4 linked regions of the Homo sapiens genome follow. The protein of the gene in region 1 purifies or fractionates together with the protein of each later gene. This does not show direct contact. Each region holds a gene or a part of one and is shown in the gene's direction. Other genes may lie near its edges.

Region 1 (2,279 bases):
AGCCGAGATCGCATAATTGCACTCCAGCCTGGGAAATGAGCAAAATTCCATCTCAAAATAATAATAATAATAATAATAATAATATTTAATGACAGGCTGGGCCAGGTGGCTCATGCCCGTAATCCTAGCATTTTAAGAGACAGAGGCAGGTAGATCATGTGAACTCAGGAATTCACAACCAGCCTGGGCAATATGACAAGACCCCATCTCTACAAAAAATACAAAAATTAGGTGTGGTGGTGCGCACCTGTAGTCCCAGCTACTTGGGAGGCTGAGGTGAGAGGATGGCTTGAGCCTGGGAGGCAGAGGTTGCATTGAGCTGTGATAATGTCACTGCACTCCAGCCTGGGTAATAGAGCGAGACCCTATCTCAAAAAAATAAAAAGGCTGGGTGTGGTGTTTACACCTGTAATCCCAGCACTTTGGGAGGCTGAGGTGGGTGGATCACCTGAGGTCAGGAGTTTGAGACCAGCCTGCCTGTCCAATATGGTGAAACCCCGTCTCTACTAAAAATACAAAAATTAGCCAGGTATGGTGGTGGGTGGCTGTAGTCCCAGCTACTTGGGAGGCTGAGGCAGGAGAATCGCTTGAACCTGGGAGGCGGAGGTTGCAGTGAGCCGAGATCGCACCATTGCACTACAGCCTGGGTGACAGAGCAAGACTCCATTTCAAAAAATAAGTAAATAAAATAAAAATGTTTAATGACTTGTTCTTGGAGGTCAAGGAGATGTCTCAGAGGCAGTCTCCCTGCACTGCCCTTTTAGCAGCTCTTGGCCAGGTAAAGGTCCTGTGGCAAGAAGGTGCTTCAGACCATAGGAGGTGCCCCAGGTACTCAGGAGGAAGCCTTAGAAGAGCGGCAAGGAGGCCGGGCGTGGTGGCTCATGCCTGTAATCCCAGCACTTTGGGAGGCCGAGGGGGGTAGATCACGAGGTCAAGCAATTGAGACCATCCTGGCCAACATGGTGAAACCTCGTCACTACTAAAAACACAAAATTTAGCTGGGCATGGTGGCATGCGCCTGTAGTCCCAGCTACTTGGGAGGCTGAGGCAGGAGAATCGCTTGAATCCGGGAGGTGGAGGTTGCAGTGAGCTGAGATCGCGCCACTGCACTCCAGCCTGGCTACAGAGTGGGACTCCATCTCAAAGAAAAAAAAAAGAGTGGCAGGGAGCTTGAATGTTATGGTGCAACTTGGACTGTCACCATTGCCCACCCTACCCCAGATCCCAAGACAAAAGCGTGGTTGAAGGAGCACGTGGAGCCTGTGTTCGGCTTCCCCCAGTTTGTCCGGTTCAGCTGGCGCACGGCCCAGACCATCCTGGAGAAAGAGGCGGAAGATGTTATATGGTGGGTGTCATGGATGTCCTGGGGGTGCTATAGGGAAGGAAGGAGGGAGGCCAGCGTTCAGCCCTGCCTGAGAGGGTTGCTCCCTGTGTAAGTGGTCACTGTCATCACCTCTCTCCCACAGGGAGGACTCAGCATCCGAGAATCAGGAGGGACTCAGGAAGATCACATCCTACTTCCTCAATGAAGGGTCCCAAGCCCGTCCCCGTTCTTCCCACCGATATTTCCTGGAACGCGGCCTGGAGTCAGCAACCAGCCTCTAGCAGCTGCCTCTACGCGCTCTACCTGCTTCCCCAACCCAGACATTAAAATTGTTTAAGGAGAACCACACGTAGGGGATGTACTTTTGGGACAGAAGCAAGGTGGGAGTGTGCTCTGCAGCCGGGTCCAGCTACTTCCTTTTGGAACCTTAAATAGAATGGGTGTTGGTTGATTAATTTTATTTGGTTTGATTTTTTTCATTTTTAAATTTTATTTATTTTATTTTATTTTATTTTATTTTTTTGAGAGACGAAGTCTCACTCTGTCACCCAGGCTGGAGTAGAATGGGGCAATCTCAGCTCACTGCAACCTCTGCCTTCCAGGTTCAAGCGATTCTCCTGCCTCAATTTCCCAAGCAGCTGGGACTATAGGCGTGTGCCATGCCCAACTAATTTTTTTTTTTTTTTGAGACACAGTCTCCTGTTGCCCAGGCTGGAGTACCATGGCACAATCTTGGCTCACTGCAACCTCCACCTCCCTGGTTCAAGCAATTCCCCTGCCTCAGCCTCCTGAGTAGCTGGGATTACAGGTGCACACCACCACACCCGGCTAATTTTCTTTTCTTTTCTTTCTTTCTTTTTTTTTTAATTTGAGACAGAGTCTCACTTTGTCACCAGGCTGGAGTGCAGTGATGCAATTTTGGCTCACTGCAACCTCTGCCTCCTGGGTTCAAGCG
Region 2 (3,500 bases), on another chromosome or scaffold:
GCTAGGTAGATCAGGTTTTCATGACACTAAATACATCACTAGTTGGATATGTTTTTCATTTTTCTTCCCTTTTTTTAGTGTCACATAGATCATCACGCCTCAGGTGTTTTGTGATTACAGATTTTAGCTAGAGCATAATACCTATGGCCCACCCACCTCCCTCCTATTTCAGTTTTCCAGTGGAAAAATAATCGTGTAAGGAAGTATTACCATACAGTCGAGTTGACCTTGGCAGGCATTGGAGGTGATATTATAGGTACTTTAGTAACAATGAAGTGAATTTTCCCAGTACATACCTTTTATCAATTCCAATTATTGAAAAATCAAAGGCTCAGAATTACTCTTCACCCACCAAATACGAGGTGCCTATATGCCAGGCATTTTTCTAGGCTCTGGGGATACAGCATTGAACAAAAGACAAGTTCCTTGCCTGGTAGAGCATCCATTCTGCTGACACAAATGCCAAGTTTTGTATAGTATAGAATTAACCTAAAAACTACATTGATGATAACGATATCAAACTAATAATAATTATTGACTACCTTCTGTATACCAGGCACAGAGTAGGAACTCACATTTAGTTCTGGGAAGAGACTGTAAACAAATAAGCTCATTTCAGATAGCATGGTACCAAAAAGAAAACAAAAATAGAGTAGAAGGGACGTCGGGGGCAATCAGATAGAGTGGTTAGGGAAGACTATGGAAGCAGAAGCGGTGGCAGGGTAGCCATGCGGGGATGAGACTGAAGATGTTCGGACAGAGAGTAGTGAATGCGGACACCTTGAGCCAGCACTGGCTGGGCACATTCAAGGGACTGGAAAGGGACCAGGTGGCCCAGAACAGTGAGTAAAATGACGGCAGCGATGGGCTGGGTGCGTGTGCAGGCCAGACTCCCACGCCTCAGGGGACTTCAGACAGTTGACAACTCAGCACACGCTCCAGACATCCAGGAGTTCCAGTTACCTTTGTGTACCCAATTTGGAACTTTGTAAACACTAGCAATTCTCTGGTTTTCAGCCCAGCTCTCACTTCAAAATCATCTGGGGAACTTTTAAAAAATACCAGTGCCACGTGAATGGGATTGGTCTGGTGTGGGGTCTGGCTTCGCATGAATGGGATTGGTCTGGTGTGGGGTCTGGCTGTCAGGATTGTTCAGAGCTCCAGGTGACTCAGATGTGTTACCCTGCCGAGACCCCGTGCTTTAGCGCTGGTTAAATGACTTGGTCGGTTCCCAGTTAGAACGTTTTAGTTGTGTGTAACAATTCAAATACAGAACTGAATATCATGCCCCACCCATAAGGAAAAAGGACTTGACTGTTCAGTTTGATTTTGCTGTTTTTCTGGAATAGGTAATAGATTACGTAGTCCAGAATTAAAGAAACGTAGGCTGGGCACGGTGGCTCTTGCCTGTAATCCCAGCACTTTGGGAGGCCAAGGTGGGCAGATCACCTGAGGTCAGGAGTTCAAGACCAGCCTGGCCAACATGGTTCAACTCCGTCTCTACAAAAATACAAAAATTAGCCAGGCATGATGGCAGGTGCCTGTAGTCCCAGCTACTCAGGAGGCTGAGGCAGGAGAATCGCTTGAACCCAGGAGGCGGAGGTTGCAGTAAGCCGAGATCATGCCATTGCACTCCAGCCTGGGCAACAGAGCAAGACTCCATCTCAAAAGAAAAGAAAGAAAGAAAGAAACCTGAAAGGAAACACAGTGAAAAGTGTCCCCTTACCACTCACCAGCCACGCGTAGCCCTACAGGAAACCAGTATCTATTTTCCGTAGATGGTTTATGCAAAATGTCTGCAGGATCTGAGTGATGTTCTGATGGCTAATGTTGGCTATTTATACCTACTCTCTTTTGTTACTGCTTGAATAGGAGTTACCAGAGATTGTCTTTTCAAAGCACCAGCTTTGATTGCGTTGACCCTATCTTGTGATTATTCTAATGTCAGCTCTTTATCACGCCCTCCCTTCAGCTCTCTTTGAGTTTATTTTGCTGCTGTTCTTCAACTTCTTGAGATGGGTTCTTAGCTCATTTTCCATTTTTCTTTCTTTGTAATATACATTTAAGGCCATATGTTTTCTTCTAAGTACTGCTTTATTAGCAATGCCCAATTATTTTTTTCAGAAACTTTATTAGGAAAATTTTAGACAGATACAAAATAAATGAAGCTTCATGTACCCATCACCCCAGTTCAGCAACTGTCAAAATCCAGCCGTCCTTATTAAACATCTACATTCACTCCCTCCAATTACTGTTATCTGTTTTGGTAAATTTTACATACTTTGCAGCCTTAGTACCATTCAAAATTCAAATAATTCTAGTAATTCCATTTCTAGAAATACATTCTACAAAACAACTTCACACATACATGAAATGACTTGTATACAGAGTAACTGACTGCAAAAGGCCTGTTAATAGGGGACTGGCTATATATGTATTTTACCCATATAGTGACATTCTTTATAGCTACAAAAAATCATGAGAAAGCCCCTCGGTGGTGGGGCAAAGAAAGCGCCAAGATACAGTCTTGGGTGAGGAAACACTGCGTGGTTGCAGGGTGGTGTGCCAGCGCCACAGAACAGGAAAGCTGCAATGTGTGTGTTTATTCGAGACTTCCAGTCTCTGTGCTCTGGACCAAATAAATCAGACCAGCCCTCCCTCCAGCCCACCTGCCACCGAAGACACCCAAGAAAGGCAAATGAAATGTATGCAAAGTCTCTTAAAGGCTTCAAAAAGCTAAACAAGTTGCAAGAGTAACAGAAAGAACCCCGCATCCCCTTTACCCATAGTCGCCTCTTCTGAACATTCTGCTACGTTCACTTTATCATCCCTCTCTCCCTCCTCCAAGGGAATACGGTTTTTCCCATAACCATTCAAGAGTTAGTGGCAGATACCACTTCCCAAGCAAGGATGTTATTTTACATAACCATAGTACAATCGAGAATCAGGAAGTTTCACATTGATATAGTACACCCTCTAAAACATAGTCCACATTCAGATTTCACCAGTTGTCCCAGTAATGTCCTTGATAGCATTTTCCCCCTTTAATAATTGTTCCATTTCCTTAGTGTCCTTTTTTTTTTTTTTTTTGAAGACAAGAGTCTTACTCTGTTGCCCAGGCTGGAGTTACAATGGTGTGATCTCAGCTCACTGCACCCTCTGCCTCCCAGGTTCAAGCAATTCTTGTGCCTCAGCCACCTAAATAGCTGGAATTAGAGGCATGCACCACCCTGCCTGGCTAGTTTTTTTTTTAATTAGTTAATTTTTTTTTTTTTGAGACGGATTTTCACTCTTGTTGCCCAGGCTGGAGTGCAACAGCGTGATCTCGGTTCCCTGCAACCTCCACCTTCCGGGTTCAAGCAGTTCTCCTGTCTCAGCCTCTGAATAGCTGGGATTACAGGTACCTGCCACCATACCTGGCTAATTTTTGTATTTTTAATAGAGACAAGGTTTCACCATGTTGGCCAGGCTGGTCTCAAACTCCTTACCTCAAGTGATCC
Region 3 (3,500 bases), on another chromosome or scaffold:
AGAGGGCCAGATGCATTGGGACATTTTGAAACTTTGTTTCTGTACAGTAGGTCTCTTATAAAACAAGCTGTTCCTTCTAGCTTCTTTCTGTGTTAAGTACAAAAGCTACCCATGTCTCTCAATGTTAAGCATTGTATTAATAGTAATAACTTATTAAGCCCTTGATATACGCAGGGCAATGTTCTCAAAACTTTAAATATACTTCCTTATTTATTCCTAACAGTGGATAAAAATATTTTTTTATTAATAAAAACATTTTTTATCCACTTATTATTTTTCTAATTGTACATATGGAACTATTCTTTTTCTAATTTTACAGATAAAAGAGGAAAGTAATTCACAAACAGGATTACTAATTTATCCAAGGTTACACACTAGAAAATGATGAAACTTAGATTCAACTTGACTGCTCCTTCGTCAGCAGTAAAATGCAAAATATATACTTTTTTGGTGATATTACTTGTCAAAAAGATTCAGTTTGTGATCTAAATCAAACTTGAGTTAAAAGAAAACATTCTTTCTAATTGTTCACAGGTAGGAAGTCACGGAATAGAGGCAGCTTGGGCTGGTGGCAGAAATGGTCGGGAAGTCATGGACAGGTTTTTTCCCCTGGTTCCAGATCTCCTTTCACCAAGAGGATTATTCTATTTAGTTACCATTAAAGAAAACAACCCAGGTAATACAGACCAATTTATTGTTTAAGCATTTATGTTGCTGAAATCAAAAGTTAATAATGTAAAATGCTTTAATTTATAAGATAACCTGGCATGTTAATGAATCACTTAAAACAGTTAATCACTGACAGTAGCTAATACAGGCATAAATTTATGTTGAAAGAGAAAAGAGGTTTTCAGAGGTAAATTTTTCTGATTTTAAAAAGTATTATCTTCTCTTTTCCCCGTTTATAACCTAATATTCAAGTATAAAAATCTCTAATGTTTTTTTCTAACACCTCACTCTCAGTATTATGAATTTTCTCTCTACCCTCTAGTCTTCATGCCCTTGACAATTGTGCTGTACTCTTTAGTTCGTTAGGAGTTTTATCATGAAAGCTATTTAATTGTATAGATTTTTATATCTTTGTTTTCAGATTGCTTTATAACTAAATTGACCATAATCTTTCCTCTCTTTTTCTGTACACTTCAAGTTTGATTTTCAGCTTATACTAAAAGTCCTCAGCCCTTCAAATCACATGATTGCTAGTTTTCTCTTGTCTTTCTCCCTTCCTTCCTTCCTATTTCTCTCTTTTCTCTTTTTTTCCTTCCTTCTCTCCATCTTTCTTTCTTCCTTTCTTCTTTCCTTTCCTTTTCTTTTTCTTTATCTCTCTCTCTTCTCTTCTCTTTTCTTTTTTCCTTCTGTCCATCTTTGTCTCTTTTTCTTTCTCTTTCTCTTCTCTTCTTTTTTTCCTTCCTTCTGTCCATCTGTCCTTCCTTCTCTCTCTCTTTCTTTCCTTCCTTCTTTTTTTTCTTCCCTTCCTTCCTTCTTTCTTCCCTTCCCTTCTCTTCTTTCTTTTTTTTCTTTCCTTCCTTCCTTCTTTCTTTTTCTTTCTTTCTCTCTTTCTCTCTCTCTTCCTTCCTTCCTTCCTTCCTTCCTTCCTTCCTTCCTTCCCTTCTCTTCCCTTCCCTTCCCTTCCTTTCCTTCCTTCCCTTCCTTTCTCTCCCTTCCCTCCCTTCCTTCCTCCCTCCCTCTCTTTCTTTCTTTCTTTCTCTTTCTTTCTCTCTCTCTCTTCTCTTCTCTTTTTTTCTTCCTTCTGTCCATCCATGCGTCCTTTCCTTTCCCTCCCTTCCCTTCCCTTCCCTCCCTCCTTCCCTCCCTCCCTCCCTCCCTCCCTCCTTCCTTCCTTCCTTCCTTCCTTCCTTCCTCCCTCCCTCCCTCCCTCCCTCCATTGTCTTAGTTCAGTCTTCTTAGTTTTATTTATTTATAAGGAAGGTTTTCTTTTTTCAATATGCCTGAAAGAAATAAGCTACTTCTTTCACTCTCACTGTGCAATGTCACTATTCAGTTTGTCCACACCTTCATTGGCTTTTGTCATCCAAAGAGAAAGACATAGGGCAGAGATTGGAGCCAATCAACTAAAAAACTGATCACTTGCTATAATAACAATGACAATTAATGTTTCTGCTGAGTCAAAAGTAGGCTGTGACTGCAAAGCAAGCCATTTATTCTGATTAGACTCACCAGCAACACTTTGAAAATACCAAGTGCTCCCATTTAGCTGAAGACCAAGTTCACTTTAGTAGACATTTATTTGATATACATTGTTTTGTCAGATGAATACAATTTATAAATCATCTGTGTTTAACTTATTAAATTGCTTATTGATCATGCACACTACCAAATGGCTTAATGGATTTTACCTTTTGATTTTTATTTTAGAAGAAATTTTGAAAATAATGAAGACAAAAGGTCTGCAAGGAACCACTGCACTTTCCAGACAAGCAGGCCAAGAAACTCTTTCAGTCCTCAAGTTCACCAAGTCTTAGCATACAGTGTGTGCCCAGAACTACTGGAAACTGAATGCATTTAGCATATTTTGAAACTGAAGTCATTCATTAGGTAACAAGGAATTTTATCAGAAATTTGTCATTAAAAAAAGGTAGAAAGGTGGAACATTCCCTTTCAGTCAGGCCTATAGAATTATTTGCACAAGTACAAGTAAATATGTGTATTATATTTATAGTTTGCATTTTAAATATAAAAATTATGTATGAAATATTTATTTCAGCATTATGTGGTAAGGCAATGGAATTGATCTGGCAAATGTCTTTTTTTTCATACCAGTCCATAAAGGCAGTTTGCTTTCAGATGGCAGGGCCAGCAACACACCTTCATTGTCGTATCTCCGGTGTGTATCAGCTCTCCAACTCTATGTCATAATTCAGTTCATGGGGATCTTGATTACCTTTCCCTTCCACAAAATATTACACTGATTGGTTATATCGATGACATTATGCTGATTTGACCTAGTGAGCAAGAAGTAGGAACTACATTAGACTTAGTGGAAAGACATTTGCATCAGAGGGTAGGAAATAAATATGACTACAATTCAAGGGCCTTCTACCTTAGTGAAATTGGTAGGGATCCAGTGACATGGGGCATGTTAGGATATTTCTTCTACGGTGAAGGATAAGTACTTGCATCTTGCTGCTCTTAAAACCAAGAAAGAGGCACAATACTTAGTGGGCCTCTTTGGGTTTTGGAGGCAACATTTTCCAATTTCATTATGTTATACCAGCCTGTTTACCAATTGACTCAAAAAGCTGCTAGTTTTGAGTAGGGCCCAGAACAAGAAAAGAGTCTGCAACAGGTCCAGGCTGCTGTGCAAGCTGCTCTGCCACTTGGGTCATATGATCCAGCAGATCCAGTGGTGTTTCAGTGGCAGTGGCAGATAGGGATGCTGTTTGAAGCTTCTGGCAGGTCCCTATAGGTGAATCTTGGTTTAGGATTTTAGAGCAAAGCCGTGCCATTACCAACAAATAACTAGTCTCTTTTTGAGAAAC
Region 4 (3,500 bases), on another chromosome or scaffold:
ATAGGTAGCAAATGGGTTAGGTGTGGTGACTTACACCTGTAATCCCAGCACTTTGGGAGGCTGAGATGGGAGAATCGCTTGAGGCCAGGAGTTAGAGACCAGCCGGGGCAACGTAGTGAGACACTGTCTCTAACAACAACAACAAAAAAAACCCCAGAAAAACGAAGATAGTATATAGTTTTCTCTTCTTTTCATTCTTAATCAGAAATGAGTTAAATTATTTTTCAAAGTATACGGTTGTTTTTCTTGATGATGAGCTTGTCATTAAAATATGTGTTAACTGTTTTTACTGGCTTGTAAGTGGTTGAAATTTCTATTTGAACATTGATTTGTGATCGAAAATTTTTTTCCAAGGTTTTATTGAAGGTGTTATATCAGTACAAGGAGAAGCAATATATGGCTCCTCGAGTTTTACAACAGACATTAAATTATATTAATCAAGGAGTTTCTCATGCTCTCACCTGGAAGAATCTGAAGCCCCATATACAAGTAATAATTTTTATCTGAAATGTTTTTATAGTAAATATAATAGAAATGACATCAATTGCCATAAAGGTTGAAAAATTGCATGTTTGTTGAGTTGTGTTACTTAGACTACTTCTGGTGATTGTTTTGAGAGTATAGCAGAAAAAGGAGATAAGACAGTGACATAAAGTTATGAGAGGTATCTTGTGAATATTCAACTTATCTTTTAATCCAAAACTGTTGTCTTCAAACTTGCAATTTAAGTTCTTAATATTGGACTATGATTATATTTTATCATGTAATTTGGAGTAGCCAAGGGACTTTATCTCACCAGATTCATTTCTAGTATAAATGACTTACCTGCTATTTCTATGAATAATTTATGTGCTTTATTTAGAGCTGTAGAATTTTATAGACTATATATATTTAGAATACTTAATTGCGACCTTTGTACACATATATCTTAAAGTTACTTGTTACAGAAAGGGGAAGTACATGTAGTTTGATAGTTGATCTTAGAACACATTAAATGCATTACTAACGTTTGATATTAAGCTTTAAAATACATATAGTGTTACTTTGGTTTTAATACTTAAAGGAAATTTGAAGGTTTAAATTTGAAAACTGATGGTTATTGTTTTCTTAACTTTTAAATTGCAGGGCATTATCCAAGATGTTATTTTTCCATTGATGTGCTATACAGATGCTGATGAGGAACTTTGGCAAGAAGACCCTTACGAATATATACGCATGAAGTTTGGTAAGGAATTTTCACGTTTTTAGAAACAAAAAATGTCAGTAATTAAGATTACAGTGATTGCATGTAGCCAACCTAGGGGGTATTATGTATCTTCTTTGTTGTTTTAATGTAATTGATCCCTTGTGTAGTCCTTTTTGGGGCTATTTATTAATTATGACATTTGATAATGATAATCTTATTTTTGGCAGACACAAATTCAATACTGTTAAGTTTTTATTACTGAATACCAAAACTGTTAGATATTCAAGATTACACCTCAACACTAAATGTCTTAACTATACTTTTGGATCTTATGTTAGCCATCATATGAGTGGGAAATGAGAAAACACATCTAGGAAGCTGGTGTCACATGAAGTCCTTGCACAGAACTAAAGAATTGTAATTTGGCTAATAATGTTGAATATTGGTCCTTATTCTTACCAAGTCATTTGTGCTTTTTGCAGCTTGTACTTTTGTGACCCTGTTGTGAAAATTCTCACATCAGTAGTGTTTCATACATACGATTTAAACTGCTGAGTTCTGAGTTAATAAATAAAAATGAAAGCTATTAGGAGGAATTCATGGATTAACATTTAATTTTCACAGGCCAGGTGCGGTGGCTAAGGCCTGTAAATCCCAACGTGTTGGGAGGCCGAGGCAGGCAGATCGTTTGAGGTCAGGAGTTTGAGACCAGCCTGACCAATATAGTGAAACCCCATCTCTACTAAAAATACAAAAATTAGCCGGGCGTGGTGGCAGGCACCTGTAAACCAGCTACTTGGGAGGCTGAGGCAGGAGAATTGCTTGAACCTGGGAGATGGAGGTTACAATGAGCCGAGATCGCCCACTGCACTCCAGCCTGAGTGACAGAGCGAGACTCCATCTCAAAACAAACAAAAGCATTCAATTTGTACAGAAAAGACATTGAATTCTGCTTTTGCAAAATTATAAAGGGATCTGGGATCATTTTCATACCTTATGTAAAGATTAAGCATGTTTTTTAATGCTTTGTTGAAGAAATTAATGTTTATTGTCTTAATTTTAAACTTGTTCTCTAGATGTGTTTGAAGATTTCATTTCTCCTACCACTGCTGCCCAGACACTTTTGTTTACAGCCTGTAGTAAGAGGAAAGAGGTAGGCTTATTTAATGTTTAGATAACTTTTCTGTATTATTTAAAATTTATTCAACTATACACTTTTTAAATGTTAGTCATGTGAGTCATTTTGTTAGTATGTTTTTTAAGGACTGTTGGCCTATTCAGTAACAATACTTTTCTCTTTTAATCTAGGTACTGCAAAAGACTATGGGATTTTGTTACCAGATTCTTACAGAACCAAATGCTGACCCTCGAAAAAAAGATGGAGCCCTGCATATGATTGGCTCTTTAGCTGAAATACTTCTGAAGGTATTCTTTAGTGTGTTTGTATGTGCATGACTATGCAAGTAGTTTTAAAAAATAAATAGCCAGCCAGGCACAGTGGCTCACTTCTATAATCCCAGCACTTTCGGGATGCTGAGGCAGGCAGATTGCCTGAGCCCAGGAGTTTGAGAACAGCCTGGGCAACATAGTGATACCCCCATCTCTATAAGGATAAAAAATAGGCCGGGTGTGGTGGCTTATGCCTGTAATCCCAGCTATTTGGGAGGCCAGGGCGGGGGGATCACCTGAGGTCAGCAGTTGAAGACCAGCCTGGCCAACATGGTGAAACCCCGTCTCTACTAAAAATACAAAAATCCGCCGGGCGTGATGGCTCACGCCTGTAATCCCAGCATTTTGGGAGACCGAGGTGGGTGGATCATGAGGTCAGGAGATCGAGACCATCCTGGCTAACACAGTGAAACCCCGTCTCTACTAAAAATAAAAATAAAAAATTAGCCGGGCATGGTGGCTGGCGCCTGTAGTCCCAGCTACTCAGGAGGCTGAGGCAGGAGAATGGCTTGAACCCGGGACGTGGAGTTTGCAGTGAGCCGAGATCACGCCACTGCAATCCAGCCTGGGCGACAGAGTGAGACTCTGTCTCCAAAAAAAAAAAAAAAAATCAGCTGGGCATGGTGGTGGGCACCTGTAATCCCAGCTACTTAGGAGGCTGAGGCAGGAGAATCACTTGAACTTGGGAGGCGGAGGCTGCAGTGAGCCGAGGTCATGCCACTGCACTCCATGCTCCAGTCCAGGCGACAGAGACTCCGTCTCAAAAAAAAATAAAAAAATAAAAAATAACAACCTTATGGAGTGTACAACTCAGTGGTTTTTAGTTTATTCACAGTTGTATAACTATCACCCCCAGAAGGAACTC

Evidence for each region. The genes of interacting proteins can lie anywhere in the genome.
Region 2: the proteins of RNASEH2A (region 1) and TTF1 purify together in Homo sapiens (affinity purification with mass spectrometry; one large-scale study listed by BioGRID and IntAct). This does not show direct contact.
Region 3: the proteins of RNASEH2A (region 1) and HEMK2 purify together in Homo sapiens (affinity purification with mass spectrometry; one large-scale study listed by BioGRID and IntAct). This does not show direct contact.
Region 4: the proteins of RNASEH2A (region 1) and IPO7 fractionate together in Homo sapiens (co-fractionation; one large-scale study listed by BioGRID). This does not show direct contact.

What each region holds. Positions count from the first base shown.
Region 1 is NC_000019.10:12,811,862-12,814,140, forward strand, and holds the end of RNASEH2A (ribonuclease H2 subunit A), read left to right. Parts: intron 1-1,221; coding exon 1,222-1,345; intron 1,346-1,466; coding exon 1,467-1,605; 3' UTR 1,606-1,779; downstream 1,780-2,279. UniProt on the Homo sapiens protein: Catalytic subunit of RNase HII, an endonuclease that specifically degrades the RNA of RNA:DNA hybrids. Participates in DNA replication, possibly by mediating the removal of lagging-strand Okazaki fragment RNA primers during DNA replication.
Region 2 is NC_000009.12:132,382,841-132,386,340, reverse strand, and holds part of TTF1 (transcription termination factor 1), read left to right. Parts: intron 1-3,500. UniProt on the Homo sapiens protein: Multifunctional nucleolar protein that terminates ribosomal gene transcription, mediates replication fork arrest and regulates RNA polymerase I transcription on chromatin.
Region 3 is NC_000021.9:28,875,368-28,878,867, reverse strand, and holds part of HEMK2 (methyltransferase HEMK2), read left to right. Parts: intron 1-534; coding exon 535-676; intron 677-2,376; coding exon 2,377-2,483; 3' UTR 2,484-3,500. UniProt on the Homo sapiens protein: Methyltransferase that can methylate proteins and, to a lower extent, arsenic.
Region 4 is NC_000011.10:9,422,652-9,426,151, forward strand, and holds part of IPO7 (importin-7), read left to right. Parts: intron 1-354; coding exon 355-489; intron 490-1,125; coding exon 1,126-1,225; intron 1,226-2,262; coding exon 2,263-2,339; intron 2,340-2,494; coding exon 2,495-2,611; intron 2,612-3,500. UniProt on the Homo sapiens protein: Functions in nuclear protein import, either by acting as autonomous nuclear transport receptor or as an adapter-like protein in association with the importin-beta subunit KPNB1.